4 linked regions of the Homo sapiens genome follow. The protein of the gene in region 1 purifies or fractionates together with the protein of each later gene. This does not show direct contact. Each region holds a gene or a part of one and is shown in the gene's direction. Other genes may lie near its edges.

Region 1 (3,500 bases):
AAAAATTAGAGACGAGGTCTCACTTGTTGCCCAGGCTGTTCTCGAACTCCTGACCTCAAGTGACCCTCCCACCACAGCCTCCCAAAGTGCTAGGATTATAGGCGTCAACCACCACACCCAACTTCAAGAACTTTTTATTTATTATTATTTTTATTTTTTGAGGTAGTCTCACTCTGTCACCCAGCCTGGAGTGCAGTGGCATGATCTTGGCTCACTGCAACCTCCGCCTCCCTAGTTCAAGCAATTCTCCTGCCTCAGCCTCCTGAGTAGCTGGGATTACAGGTGCCCACCACCATGCCAGCTAATTTTTGTATTTTTAGTAGAGACAGGGTTTTGCCATGTTGCCCAGACTGGTATCAAACTCATGGCCTCAAGTGATCCACCTGCCTCGGCCGCCCAAAGTGCTGGGATTACAGGCGTGAACCACCTTGCCCGGCCAGGATCTTAAGAAGGACTTTTTCTTGTGTCATTTTGTTTTTCAGAATTCCCTTCTCCATGTTTGGACTCAAAGACTAAGGTGGTTATGAAGGGTCAAAATGTATCTATGTTTTGTTCCCATAAGAACAAATCACTGCAGATCACCTATTCATTGTTTCGACGTAAGACACACCTGGGAACCCAGGATGGAAAAGGTGAACCTGCGATTTTTAACCTAAGCATCACAGAAGCCCATGAATCAGGCCCCTACAAATGCAAAGCCCAAGTTACCAGCTGTTCAAAATACAGTCGTGACTTCAGCTTCACGATTGTCGGTAAGTAGAGTGCCTGTTCCTTGGAGCCCCTATAATTTATAGGGTGCTTTCTGGTTCTATGAGGGGCTCTCCATGATCCTTGTGAACACTTAAGAACCTGGAAAGTATGTTACTGCGAGCTTTATTCTTTTTTTATTTTTTATTTATTTTTAGACCTGGTCAACAGGAAGTATCTTTTAATTTTTTAATTTTTGAGATCTCTATTCTTTTTTTTTTTTTTGAAACAGAGTCTCACTCAGTTGCCCAGGCTGGAGTACAGTGGTGAAATCATGGTCCACTGCAAACTCCACCTCCTGGGTTCAAGGCATTCTCCTGCCTCAGCCTCCCAAGTAGCTGGGATTACAGGCACCCATCACCACGCCTGGCTAATTTTTGTATTTTTACTTGAGACGAGGTTTCACCATGTTGGTCAGGCTGGTCTCGAACTCCTGACCTCAGGTGATCCGCCTGCCTCAGCCTCCCAAAATGCTGGGATTACAGATGTAAGCCACCATGCCCAGTGAGTTCTCTATTCTTAATCATTCCGTTTCACCTTCTCTTTCAAAGACTTTCGACCATGTCAGATAATAGTCTTATATCTTTAGGCAAAAGTCTTATATCTCAACAATAATTGTGGAGGTCTTTTCTAGAAACTTTATTCTGTGATTCCCATTGTGTGGGCAAAAATCGCTTTTTTTTTTTTTTTTTTTTTCTGAAGCCTTGGGCCCCTTGGAGAGGGTCTTCAAAGCCTCACGCCTTTCCCACCGCTTCCTTAGTGTCAGGGGCCCCATCCGCTAGCACTCTTCCTGCCTAGCCACATCTCACTACTTCTGTGTTTTTCTGTCCCATTTTCCTACCCCAAGCCTGTTACTGCCTAGCATTAAGGGCCTCATCCGTGAAGGTGACCTTGATAATGGACTCCTGTGGGAGGAGAGAAGGCTTCTAGGTAACACATGTATGTTATACCTGGAGTCTTCAAAGCGTAGGGACCCTGACTTCCTGATAACTCTTGAGTGGTCCTCTATGTCTATGCTATCCAGTACGGTACTGTTTAAACTTATTTGTTTATTTTGTTTTATTTTATTTCTTTTTTTCTTTTTTTGAGATGGAGTCTCGCCCTGTCACCCAGGCTGGAGTGCAGTGGTGCGATCTCAGCTCACTTCAACCTCCGCCTTTCGAGTTCAAGCAATTCTCCCACCTCAGCCTCCCGAGTAGCTAGGATTACAGGCATGCACCACCATGCCCAGCTAATTTTTGTATTTTTAATAGAGATGGGGTTTCACCATGTTGACCAGGCTGGTCTTAACTCCTGACCTCAGGTGATCCACCCACCTCAGCCTCCCAAAGTGCTGGGATTACAGGCGTGTGCCACTGCTCCTGGCCAACGTTTATTTATTTAATAGCCTATGTCACCCAGGCTGGAGTGCAGAGGCTACTCACAGGCAATCAAAGCCCATTGCAGCCTCAAACTCCTGTTCTTAAGAGATCCTCCCACCTCAGCATCCTGAATAGCTTGGATTACAAGCACGTGCCATAATTAAAATCAAGTCAATTAAAATTAGATGAAATAAAAAATTTCCCTCCACAGTCTCAGTTACATTTCAAGGCTTTGATAGCCACACCTGTAGCTGGTGGCTGCCACATTGGACAACACAGATGTAGACCATTCCCATCATCACAGAAAGTTCTACTGGGTGACATTGCTGTAGCTCAGTGATTCTTAGCTTTTTAGGTTATAACTGTCTTAATAATCCAATGATAGCAATGAATATCTTCTCCAGAGAAATGCTCATAAAACTACGTATACAAATTTCTGCATAAGGTTTTAGAGAATGCTACGGACTCCAGGTTAGAACCAATTATCTTGGCCAGGTGCGCTGTCTCACAGGTGTAATCCCAGCACTTTGTGAGGCTGAGGCGGGAGGATCACCTGAGCCCAGGAGTTTGAGACCAGCCTGGGAACTATGTGGAGACTGTGTGTCTACAAAAAGTTAAAAAATATATATATGTAGCTGAGCGTGGTGGCGTGCCTATAGTGCCAACTACTCAGGAGGCTGAGTTGGGAGGATTGCCTCAGCCCAGGAGTTCAAGGCTGCAGTGAGCTGTGATTGCACCACTGCACTGCAGCCTGGGTGACAGAGAGAGACCCTGTCTCAAGAAAAAAAAAATCCCAATGATCTTTGGACATAAACTGAGTATATTCCTTGTGAAAGGAAAAGGAAGAAGGAGGGGGAAAATCCCTGCAAACATGGTACTGGAATACGATGGATATGTGAGGGCAGGAACACAGCTGATGGTATTCTCTAGTGGTCAGACTCCTGCTGCACTCAGCAATAAGCCCATCAGTTCATATGTTTTTTGTGCACGACCTTCCTGCAATTTGTTAGGGTAATTACACAGTCTGGTAATAAAACTATCTTGGTAGATTATAAAACTGTATCATCTTCAGTTAGGCCAGATCAATAGGCACTACGGAGTACCTACTCCATGCAAGCAATTGTACTACTGGGTTTTTAATGAGGCCTAAAACATAGTGTTGTCTCCAACCCAGTAAGGGTTGAAACTATGAGCCATAAACACAAATTCATTAATCACTGATTCACTCATCAAAAAAAAATTTTTTTTTTGAGATGGATCTTGCTCTGTCACTCAGGCTGGAGTGCAGTGGCACCATCTCGGCTCACTGCAAGCTCTGCCTCCCGGGTTCACACAATTCTCCTGCCTCAGCCTCCCGAGTAGGTGGGACTACAGGCGCCTGCCACCACGCCT
Region 2 (4,281 bases), on another chromosome or scaffold:
GGTGCCCGCCACCAAGCCCCAGCTAAATTTTGTATTTTTAGCAGAGATGGGGTTTCACCATGTTGGCCAGGCTGGTCTCGAACTCCTGACCTCAGGTGGTCCGCCCACCTCGGCCTCCCGAAGTGCTGGGATTACAGGCGTGAGCCACTGCGCCCGGCCTAAAATATTTTTTATTTTTGTCTTTATAGGTTTTTTTTCTATGTGTGTGAGAGGATTAAATGAAATAATGTAATTAGTAAAGCGATTAGTTAGCACTTTAAAAATATTTATAAATGTATACATAGATATATAATACATATCTATGTGTACAAACACTGAAGTTTCCTATTCTTTCTGTGCCTACTTTTTCCTTTCTTTCCCCGAATACTTTGTCTCTGGAAGAGTTCACACTGTAACCTCCAACTGTTCCAGCTACTTGGTTTGCTTTCAGCACTAGGCTTGTAGGATGCGCAGCCAGTAGGGGGCAAGAATCACCCAGGCGTGCTTATTACCCAAGCAACGGAGTCAAACAGCACTTTCAGAATGACTTTACAAAAGGGTTACCAACAAGGTAATATGTTTATTGTGTTAGGTCGCTTAATAATAACGAAAAGATGAAAACAAGGAAGTGAGAAGCGGTAGGGACAGCCCTACTCTTCAGTATTCATTAAGTGGGAGCCCCGGTGTGTCGGGCTTGCGTATGAGCGTGAAGACAGACGTGGGATGGCTGAGCTCACACGCCTTAGGCTCTGATTCTAGCCGTGGTCGCGCCGAGGGCTCCGGGTTACTTGCGGTTTCACTGCCAATAAAGTGCTTTGAGCGAGCCTAACAAGCAATGAATATGTAAACATTTTGTTTCTAGGACTAACTAGGTAATGAAGAGATCTTCCAAGTGACAGAAACGCTGCTAGGTAACTTCCTGGGCCGTAGCTCCCCACCCTAACAGGTTCTGAAAATAGCTCCAGGCCCTTCCTAACCGGAGTTTGAAAGCAGGCGCGGGGCGCATGCGCGCGGCCCTCCGGCCGACCTCCCGATAGCCCTGGCACGCGGACCTTCTTCCCGACAGGCCGCGGGGAAAAAAGGGCGGGGAAACGGAATTACCGCGAGCTCTCCGTGAGCGCCGGCGGAAACAGTAGTCACGTGACTCTCCTAGGTGGCCTTCGCCTTCCCCCTCCCCCTTCGCGGAAACCCGGCCCCCTCACCCCTCGCCCACCCCAGAGCCGCGGTAATGGACCGTTTGGGTTCCGGAATTCTCTTGGATCCAACAACTGGTACCGGGCCGAGGATAGCCGGCGGAGTCCGTTTTTGGCGGCGAAGACTGGGGGGTGGTCAAGATGGGGGGGAAATCATCTTCCTTCACCTAGGAGGGAGGCGGGGCGGAGAGGGGCGCAGAGAGGCGGGTGGGGGAGGAGGGAGGAAGTCACGTGAGGGCGCTGCGTGCGCGCGGCGCCTCATCCGTTGCCCCTCCCCCGCCCCTCCCGGCGGGGCGGGGGGGCTGGGGGAGGGGCGTCAAGATGGCGGCGGGGAGGTAGGCAGAGCAGGACGCCGCTGCTGCCGCCGCCACCGCCGCCTCCGCTCCAGTCGCCTCTGGTCCTTCAAACTCACACCTCCCGGGAGGAGCTGTGCTGGCGCCGGGTCCCGCGGGGAAAGTAAGTCCTTCCCTTGGCCCTTTTCTCCTTCCACACTCCCCCTCCCGGACAGCCTCCCACTCCCACCCTCGGGGGGCCGTGCGGGGCCAGGCTGGGGGGACAGCCACCTCGCCCCGGCTTGGGGCCTCCCTCGCCGCTTGCCGCTCCTCGCGGCCGCGCGCTCCGGGGCCCTCGGGGGCATGTTCCCGACGGCGGCTCCGTTGTACTCGCTTCCTCTGTTCGTCAGCGCCGGGCCCCGCTGTCGCCGCTCGTGGGGCTTTCGGGCTCCGGGAGCCCCGCTGTCCCGGGCCGGAGGCACCCCTCTTGGACCGCGGGGCAGGGTCTGTGCACGCCGGCTCCGCTGGGTTCGCCCCTTTGGCTTCCGCCTCACAACCCGGGGGCTGCGGGTCCGGGACCCGCGGGGAAAGTAAGGACCGGATCCTTCCCAAGTCCTCTTTCGTGCCCCAGCATTGCTCCCGGCTCTGGGCGAGGGAGGGAGGCAGGCGACGCGGTCGTCCTTCCTAAATCTGAACCCCACAGCGCGGTCTCGTACATGCCCCGCTCTTGGGGCGGTGGGGAAGCCGCGGGGGACACGTGCAGGCTCCCTTCACGCCTCTCCAGGCGACTCGCTTAGTTCTGCCTCGGCGGGCGAGCTCACCTCCCAGACCCTAAGAATTACCCATGGAGGGGAACGGCAGTTGGGGATTTGCTTACTTTGAGAGCGTTTGGCATAACGAGCATCCAGAGTTCCCCAAAGCAGTGGATACCGGTGGTTTCCCAGAAGTGGTTTGGGGTCGGTTTAACCGCTGAGGAGATTTGGATGTTCCTAAACCCTTCTGATTGTTTCTTTCCTGACCCTGGCATCCAGCTCCTCCCCTTCCCACCCCTGCTTTGTGCTTCTGTTTGGTTAATGTTTGCGGACCACTAACTTGATCCTCGCACAGAGAAGCTCTTTTTATGTGCGTGCTCGGTTTACTGTGGGAGGCTTTTGTTTTGGGGAGTCGCTGGTTGAGAAACGTGGGAAAAGAACGGGCCAGAAAATGAGAGACAAATAAAGCAACGTTTTTATCCATTGAATTGCGCAGCCAATTGTAAGTGCACCCGGAAGTTTGTACTGAACACGTGTTGAGGGAAGGTTATAAACTGGTCCCCTTTGACCTTTGAAAGTTGGCTATTATCATTTTATGTTGAGTTAAATGTTTCATATATTCTAGACAGCCAGAATTAGGGATGGAATATGGTTTCTAAAGAGTCATCCAGAAGGGTGCAGAGAACTGTCATCCGGAGTGCCCTAGCAGGAATTGACTTAACACTTTCAGATAATTCTGCGAGCTGACAGTACAGAGGGATTCTATTTTCCACCATATTTTCTAGCAATCAGAATTGATTTTCATAAGCGTAGGGAAAGCTATCATCGTTGCACAGAAGATAGCAGAATTTCCTACTGGTGACTTGAGTGGGACATTAATTTTGCAAGCAAGGGAACATTTTCTCTCATCTTTTAAAGAAGTTGTTTCCAAAATTTTTCCGATGGGAGACGACTTTACTTTTTTTCTCTGGCTTCTGCTTTTTATCTTCCATTCCAACTTATTCCATATAATTGCGTTTGGAATATTTATGCTATTTTTAAATTTTTGAGACAGGGTCCCACTCTGTTGCTCAAGCTGAAGTGCAGTGACGTGGTCATAGCTCACTGCAGCTTGAACTCCTGGGCTCAAGCGATCGTCCCACTTCAGCCTCCGGAGTAGCTGGGACTACAGATGTGCACCACTACAGCAGCTAATTTTTTTTTTTTTAATTTTTTTGTTGAGAGGCGGGGGTCTCACCATGTTGGGAGGCAGCTACTGGCCTCAAGCAATCTTCTGGCCTCCGCTTCCCGAAGTGGTGGGATTACAGGCATGAGCCATTGTGCCTGGCCCCTTCAGAATCTTTTTTTTTTTTTTTTTTTTTTTTGAGGCGGAGTCTTGCTGTGTTGCCCAGGCTGGAGTGTAGTGGTATGAACTCGGCTCACTGCAACCTCTGCCTTCAGGGTTCAAACAATTCTCCTGCCTCAGTCTCCCTAGTAGCTGGGATTGCAGGCATGTGCCACCACACCTGGCTAATTTTTTTTTATGTAGTTGGCAGAAAGGGGTTTCACCATGTCGGCCAGGCTGGTCTCACACTAGTGACCTCAAGTGATCCACTCACCTCTGTCTCCCGGAGTGCTGGAATTACAGCCGTGAGCCACCGCCCTTGGCCCCCCCGTCAGAATCCTTTTTTTTTTTTTTTTTTTTTTTTTTTTTTTTTGAGACGGAGTCTCGCTCAGTGGCCCAGGCTGGAGTGCAGTGGCACGATCTCTGCTCACTGCAAGCTCCGCCTCCCGGGTTCACGCCATTCTCCTGCCTCAGCCTCCCAAGTAGCTGGGATTACAGGTGCCCGCTGCCACGCCCGGCTAATTTTTTGTACTTTTAGTAGAGACGGGGTTTCACCATGTTAGCCAGGATAGTCTCGATCTCCTGACCTCGTGATCCGCTTGCCTCGGCCTCCCAAAGTGCTGGGATTGCAGGCGTGAGCCACCACGCCCAACAGAATCTTTTTTTTTTGAGGTGGAGTCTCGCTCTCTCGCCCAGGCTGGAGTGCGGTGTCATAACCTTGGCTCACTGCATTCCTCTGCCTCCTGGGTTAAAACGGTTAT
Region 3 (3,500 bases), on another chromosome or scaffold:
TATGGGCCATACTTTATTGTTTCTTTGCATGTTTTATAACTTTTTGTTGTTGAAAACTGGACATTTTAAATAATGTGGCCACTCCGGAAATCAGATTGTTTCCCTTCCCAGGGTTTGCTGTTGTATTTTTGTTTAGTGACTTTTCTGAATTGATTCTGTAGTCTGTATTCTTTGTTGTTTGTGGCTACTGAAGTCTCTGCTTAGATAGCTTAGTGGTCAGGTAATGATTAAACAAATTTCTTTAAATTTCTGTTAAATTTCTTAAAATTCTGTTCTCACTGCCTGGAAGCAGTGAGTATCCCAGTTTTTGCTTTGGGGCTCTGTGTGCACGTTGGGATGTACCTATAACACTCTGCCAGGCATTCGATAACTCTGCCTTAACTTTCACTTCCTGCTATGCAGAACCTCAAGGTCAACCACAAGTAAGAGACATTCTTAGGTCTTTCCTGAGCATGTGCACAGCTTTGGGTATATGCACAGACCTGGGTATGTTCATGGCTTCCTAGATGCCCAGGAATATATTGGGGCTTTTCTAAGCCTCTGTGGACATCTTATTCCCCAGCTTTTCCTTTAAACCTTTTTGGTTAGCCTGTTGTTTTCTCCACCTGTTAATCACTGCCTCAGGAAGCCATGAAGTCAAACAGTTACCTCTATTTGTTTTCAACCGGTGCTCCTGGGGAAAAGGTTTTTTCACACTGGGTGAGTTCTAAGACAGCCTTGAAATAGGGCCTTCTAAGGAACTGTCAGACAGGTTGAATAATGCCAGTTCTTTTTTTTTTTTTTTTTCAGAGTCAAGCTTCTTTTTTTTTTATACTTTAAGTTCTAGGGTACATGTGCACAACGTGCAGGTTTGTTACATATGTATACATGTGCCATGATGGTGTGCTGCACCCATTAACTCATCATTTACATTAGGTATATCTCTTTTTTTTTTGAGATGGAGTCTTGCTTTGTCACCCAGGCTGGAGTGCACTGGCGCAATCTCAGCTCACTGCAAGCTCCACCTCCCGGGTTCACGCCATTCTCCTGCCTCAGCCTCCCGAGTAGCTGGGACTACAGGCGCCTGCCACCATGCCCGGCTAATTTTGTTTTTTTTTTTTTTTTGAGACGGAGTCTCGCTCTGTCACCCAGGCTGGAGTGCAGTGGTGCAATCTCGGCTCACTGCAAACTCCGCCTCCTGGGTTCACGCCATTCTCCTGCCTCAGCCTCTCCGAGTAGCTGGGACTACAGGCACCCGCCACCACGCCTGGCTAATTTTTTGTATTTTTAGTAGAGACGGCATTTCACCGTGGTCTCGATCTCCTGACCTCGTGATCCGCCCGCCTCGGCTTCCCAAAGTGCTGGGATTACAAGCGTGAGCCACTGCGCCCGGCCACGCCTGGCTAATTTTTTGTATTTTTAGTAGAGATGGGGTTTCACCATGTTAGCCAGGATGGTCTCGATCTCCTGACCTTGTGATCCGCCCTCCTCGGCCTCCCAAAGTGCTTGGATTACAGGCATGAGCCACCACGCCCGGCCTAGGTATATCTCTTAATGCTATCCCTCCCCGCTCCCCCCACCCCACGACAGGCCCTGGTGTGTGATGTTCCCCTTCCTGTGTCCAAGTGTTCTCATTGTTCAATTCCCACCTCTGAGTGAGAACATGCAGTGTTTGGTTTTCTGTCCTTGTGATAGTTTGCTGAGAATGATGGTTTCCAGCTTCATCCATGTCCCTACAAAGGATATGAACTCATCCTTTTTTATGGCTGCATAGTATTCCATGGTGTATATGTGCCACATTTTCTTAATCCAGTCTATCATTGTTGGGCATTTGGGTTGGTTCCAAGTCTTTGCTATTGTGAATAGTGCCTCAGTAAACATACGTGTGTGTGTGTCTTTATAGCAGCATGATTTATAATCCTTCGGGCATATACCCAGTAATGGGATGTCTGGGAATAATGCCAGTTCTTTGTAAGGCTTTGATGAACATCATCCCCATTCTGGAGTCAACTTGTCTCCTGAGGAGACTAGTTCCTTTAGTGGTTGTTGCTATTTAGAAACCACATCTGGGTGCTACATGTGCTTATTGCTACTGGAGTGTCATCTGCAGGCCCTACCAGGACGTGGGTAGGAAATATATATATGTCTATATATACACATAAACATGCATATATCTTTTTCTTTATATATTAAAAGCCCACACCAGTTATTCTAATCTATTCTAATACCACAGGGTTTGTTCTACTCTTTTGCCTTGCCATATTTGTTAACTCCTTTCTCTGATAGAAACCTGACCCCTCACCCTTAATGTATTTATTGATTTATTCAAATCTTTCCTGTATGTAATCAATCTTTTGAAAGCTCAGATTGAAAACTCCCAAAAAAGTGGGAGGAGGCAGTGTATAGGTAATTTTTTTTTTTTTTTTTGAGACGAAGTCTCGCTCTTGTCCCCTAGGCTGGAGTGCAATGGCGCGATCTCAGGTCACTGCAACCTCCGCCTCCCGGGTTCAAGCAATTCTCCTGCCTCAGCCTCCCAAGTAGCTGGGACTGCAGGTGCATGCCCTCATGCCCAGCTAATTTTTTTGTATTTTAGTAGAGATGGGGTTTCACTGTGTTGCCCAGGCTGGTTGCAAACTCCTGAGCTCAGGCAGTCCGCCTGCCTCGGCCTCCCAAAGTACTGGAGTAATTTTTTGTTATTGTTTGAGATGGGGTCTCACTCTGTCACCCAGGCTGGAGTACAGCAGCATGATCTCTGCCTACTGCAACCTCCGCCTCCCGGGTTCAAGCGATCCTTGTGCCTCAGCCTCCTGAGTAGCTGGGATTACCAGCATGCGCCACCATGCCCGGCTAATTTATATATATTATATATATATATATATTTTGTTTGTTTGTTTGTTTGTTTGTTTGTTTGTTTTTTGAGATGGAGTCTCGCTCTGTCGCCCAGGCTAGAGTGCAGTGGTGCGATCTCAGCTCACTGCAAGCTCCGCCTCCCAGGTTCACGCCATTCTCCTGCCTCAGCCTCCCGAGTAGCTGGGACTACAGGCGCCCACCACCACACCCGGCTAATTTTTTGTATTTTTAGTAGAGACGGGGTTTCACCATGTTAGCCAGGATGGTTTCAATCTCCTGACCTCGTGATCTGCCTGCCTCGGCCTCCCAGAGTGCTGGGATTACAGGCGTAAGCCACCGCGCCCGGCCTATATTATGTATTTTTTAGTACAGACGGGTTTCACTGTGTTGGCCAGGCTGGTCTCGAACTCCTGACCTCAAGTGATCCACCCACCTCAGCCTCACAAAGTGTTGGGATTACAGGCGTGAGCCACTATGCCCGGCCTGTATTCAGTAATTTTTGAAGGAATGGTTAAACATTCTCTTCTTCCCTCTGTGGAAATATCCTTTTGTATTATAGCATGCCACATTGTAACTGGAAGGAAAGTTTGTTACCGTAGTATCTGTTCTTTGGACTCCGGAATTGAGTTAGTATCCATGGCATTTGGAATATAGGCACCAGTGGTGACTTA
Region 4 (3,500 bases), on another chromosome or scaffold:
TGAAAGGAGAAACCCCAAGGGGAATCAAATTCTGGACTGAGCCCTTCTTATTCATGGGTAACAACGCCTTCCACCTTAGCCCAAGCGTAAGGGCCATCCCTTCCCTTATATCTGGGATGATACTCTTTCCCTCTTTTCTTTCATCTTTATTATGTACCATTTCGTTAGCTTTTTTCACTAGCATATATACATATTTGAATATCTCATCTAAAAACAAAGAAAAGCTTTGGAACACCCCCCACTTCACCATCTGTCTCCCATTCTTCTAGTTAAGTTTCTTGAAGAATGGTTTATCGAACATCTTTCTTCTCACTCTTTTCCCAACCTGCTGCCTCGTGGCTCTGCAAATCTCAGTCTGCCACCAATGATACCTTTTGTGACCACTGAATGAGAGAGGGATACCATAGTTATCAAGAACCTGTGGGCAGGGCAGAGAGTGATGTGAACTGTAGGGCTTCATTGAAAGTCTTGATGCTGGCAGCCATTCTGAATTTCAGCTATTGCTTTGCAGTTTGAGCTGCTTCTTTCATGAACTCTCCATAGCAACAGAGCCTTAATTATTGATGCTGATTGGTTCTGTTAAGCCACATTGGGTAGGCCAAGTATTGATAGATAACATTGGTGTTTTAGAGACATCTCATGGGTTGCCTGTCTTCCCTTCTGGATTCTGAATCACTTAAGAAGTAGATCCAGAGGTCAAATGGGGATCTAAACATGAACTTTCTTTTTGGTGAGAGCAAGACTAGAGGATGTGACTTAGATATTCTATGAGAAATCTACCTTGGAATCTGCTTATTGTGTGAGTGGGTCTGCAGAGCAGACCTTCCTCCACCAGCCACAAGGAGGCCCTCCGAGCTTGGCTTTCATTTATCAACCAGAGAAGGCATTGGTAGCTATTTATGGTCTGTCAGTTACATATCTCACCGCTTTGGTTCTTCATATCTGGCTCTCCATGGCCTCTCTGTCAGTGCTGCATAGTTCTCAGCAGGATTTCTGACCCTAGATGGCAGGTTTTATGGAAGAGTGGTGGTCCTGTTGTGGACTTAAAATAGAGGGTGGCTTACTTGGTTGAATTTTTATCCAATTGAAAATTCTTAGGACTGTTTCTGACAATTTGCATTTTTTTATAGCTAGATTATTTGTACATATGAAAGGCTCATCCATTGATTAATGAGCCAATTAATGAAGTCAAGCTGATAGTATCCTTCTTGTTATCACAGGTCCATTTTGTTTATTTTTGTCTATTTTACAGGTTGAATATAAGCTGGGATTCCAAGTGGACAATGTTTTGGCAATGGATATGCCCCAGGTCAACATTTCTGTTCAGGGGGAAGTTCCACGCACTTTATCAGGTAAGTAAGAGTCTTCAAAGACAGAGTTAACATACTTTTTCAACTGCATCCCCTATGGCCCCAAAACAGAAGTTTACTGATGTGTAGTGTGTATTACTTGATAGGCATAAGATGTATGAGTACTGTGAAAAGTAATTTTTGTAAATATTTGCACTGTGTTCTTAAACCATTCTCTCTTTTCTGTCCTTCTGGAACTCTCTGTGCTCCGCCCTCCCTGTCTCTTTTTCTGCATTGCTGGTACTTACCTCCACATGAGTCCCTGTGCCTGATCTTGTTTCCCTTTGATTAGGCACCACATTTCACCCTGTGGCCCAGATGATCTTTGCACGGTCATGTTTGACCCTGTGACGTGAAGCCCATCAGTGCTCTCCACTCCCATCAACTGAACATTCCAGACTCACCACCTTGTGTCCTGGATCCTTTACCATCTGCCCCTGCCTGCCTGTCTAGCCTTGTTGCTGCACTTGCCCCAGAGTTGTAGCAGTTCCAGACTACATGCAGTTCTGATCTTCAAGCCTTTGCATGTGCTGGTCTCAGTATTTGGGATCATCTTTTCCTCTTTCTGCTCGTGAACTCCTTTCTATTCATCCTACTCATTCTGCAAGACTCAAGATCTGCACTGTCTTTTTTCTGCCACCTTCTCTTCTTTCATTTGTTAACTTCTATTCTTCCTACCCCTTAGAACCTTATATTTAACTGTTTTTGCACTGATTACATATCTAGCAATTCCCTTGATGCATAGCATAGAGTATGGTGCAGGATAGGCACTCAGTACAGTCTGAGTAAATGAATAAGTGTATTATTTACACCAATTTAACTGCTTTTGAGCTAACTTCTTAGGCTCTTGAAGTTGTGGTATTTGTAAGAAATGGATATTTTTAAAAATTGAAAGTATCAGCCACAATAGTGTTGTGAAACTTTTTCTGGCAGTCATATTCACTGTTATCAGTGACATACATTAAGCTTAAATAAAGCACAGGAGGGCTGCTTAAATTTTTATGGGCAGTAAAGGAATTTAGAAATGCCCATATCTTTAATGCAGTCATACAGATGGTAGAATGATAGGTTTTAAATTTGTAGGAAAAGAATCTTAAAGATTGGGGAAAAAAATTATATGCACTGAAGTCTGTTATCCCATTGTTACAATTATGGATTAAAATCAATTTCTGTTGAGAAAGGTGATAGCTGACAATTTATCAGATTCATTTACAGGTTTATATTTAATCTTTTTATTAAGAGCAGACATACTTGCATTTTGGTAGTGAGTTGTCTTTCCATTTGATCATGTAATTTCTGTTGTTACTATTGCTGATGTGTCTGTTAAGGTTTGCCTTATGATCCTTCAGTTTTAGTGTACTGGAATAGCAGGACTTATGAGACAAAGTGGTGTATTAAAAACAATGAGCAGAAGTTGAAAACAATTATCTCTTCATTGATGTCTTGGTTTGTTCTTTAATACTAACTTTTATATCCATAATGAATTAAATGCTTAATGTCTAGAGGTGTGGTAGTCTGAAGATCTCTAAAAACTTTTGTTTAGTTACTTTATTTAAATGTATTACTTTTAGTTTTCTTGCAGCAAAAATAAGTAATTCTAAAATGTTTAAAAGAATCATTTTGGGGCATTAATGTTGATTTTTAGAAAATGTAAAATATTTTTCTTATCTTTTTTAAACAGTGTTTCGGGTAGAGCTTTCCTGTACTGGCAAAGTAGATTCTGAAGTTATGATACTAATGCAGCTCAACTTGACAGTAAATTCTTCAAAAAATTTTACCGTCTTAAATTTTAAACGAAGGAAAATGTGCTACAAAAGTAAGGAATTTATTTACCAAAATATGTTTTACATGTATGTGAGAAGGTGAAAAATAGAGTTTGTTGTTTTTTCACAGATTTAAGTATGTCCAACTCATGATTATAGTTGCAAGTGAGAAAAGAGCACTGGCAGGTGAAGTTTTGAGATAATCCCAGATGGTTGGTAGCCAAGAATCTCACTCAGGCCTCATTCAGTCCATGCTTTCTCAAATCTTTTGTCAGAATTGCTAAGATGTTTTCCATTAGGAATAGTGCTAAAATGGTTGAAGAGGTAAAGAAATAAGAAAAATCTGTTGGGACTTCTGAGTAACTATGTTAACTGTGTTTCCCTTATC

Evidence for each region.
Region 2: the proteins of MILR1 (region 1) and SBNO1 purify together in Homo sapiens (affinity purification with mass spectrometry; one large-scale study listed by BioGRID and IntAct). This does not show direct contact.
Region 3: the proteins of MILR1 (region 1) and UQCC1 purify together in Homo sapiens (affinity purification with mass spectrometry; one large-scale study listed by BioGRID and IntAct). This does not show direct contact.
Region 4: the proteins of MILR1 (region 1) and RYK purify together in Homo sapiens (affinity purification with mass spectrometry; 2 studies listed by BioGRID and IntAct, with this or other methods). This does not show direct contact.

What each region holds. Positions count from the first base shown.
Region 1 is NC_000017.11:64,452,115-64,455,614, forward strand, and holds part of MILR1 (allergin-1 isoform Allergin-1L precursor), read left to right. Parts: intron 1-482; coding exon 483-752; intron 753-3,500. UniProt on the Homo sapiens protein: Immunoglobulin-like receptor which plays an inhibitory role in degranulation of mast cells. Negatively regulates IgE-mediated mast cell activation and suppresses the type I immediate hypersensitivity reaction.
Region 2 is NC_000012.12:123,362,048-123,366,328, reverse strand, and holds the start of SBNO1 (protein strawberry notch homolog 1), read left to right. Parts: upstream 1-1,481; 5' UTR 1,482-1,628; intron 1,629-4,281. UniProt on the Homo sapiens protein: Plays a crucial role in the regulation of neural stem cells (NSCs) proliferation. Enhances the phosphorylation of GSK3B through the PI3K-Akt signaling pathway, thereby upregulating the Wnt/beta-catenin signaling pathway and promoting the proliferation of NSCs.
Region 3 is NC_000020.11:35,401,974-35,405,473, reverse strand, and holds part of UQCC1 (ubiquinol-cytochrome c reductase complex assembly factor 1), read left to right. Parts: intron 1-3,500. UniProt on the Homo sapiens protein: Required for the assembly of the ubiquinol-cytochrome c reductase complex (mitochondrial respiratory chain complex III or cytochrome b-c1 complex). Involved in cytochrome b translation and/or stability.
Region 4 is NC_000003.12:134,209,360-134,212,859, reverse strand, and holds part of RYK (tyrosine-protein kinase RYK isoform 2 precursor), read left to right. Parts: intron 1-1,252; coding exon 1,253-1,352; intron 1,353-3,030; coding exon 3,031-3,165; intron 3,166-3,500. UniProt on the Homo sapiens protein: May be a coreceptor along with FZD8 of Wnt proteins, such as WNT1, WNT3, WNT3A and WNT5A. Involved in neuron differentiation, axon guidance, corpus callosum establishment and neurite outgrowth.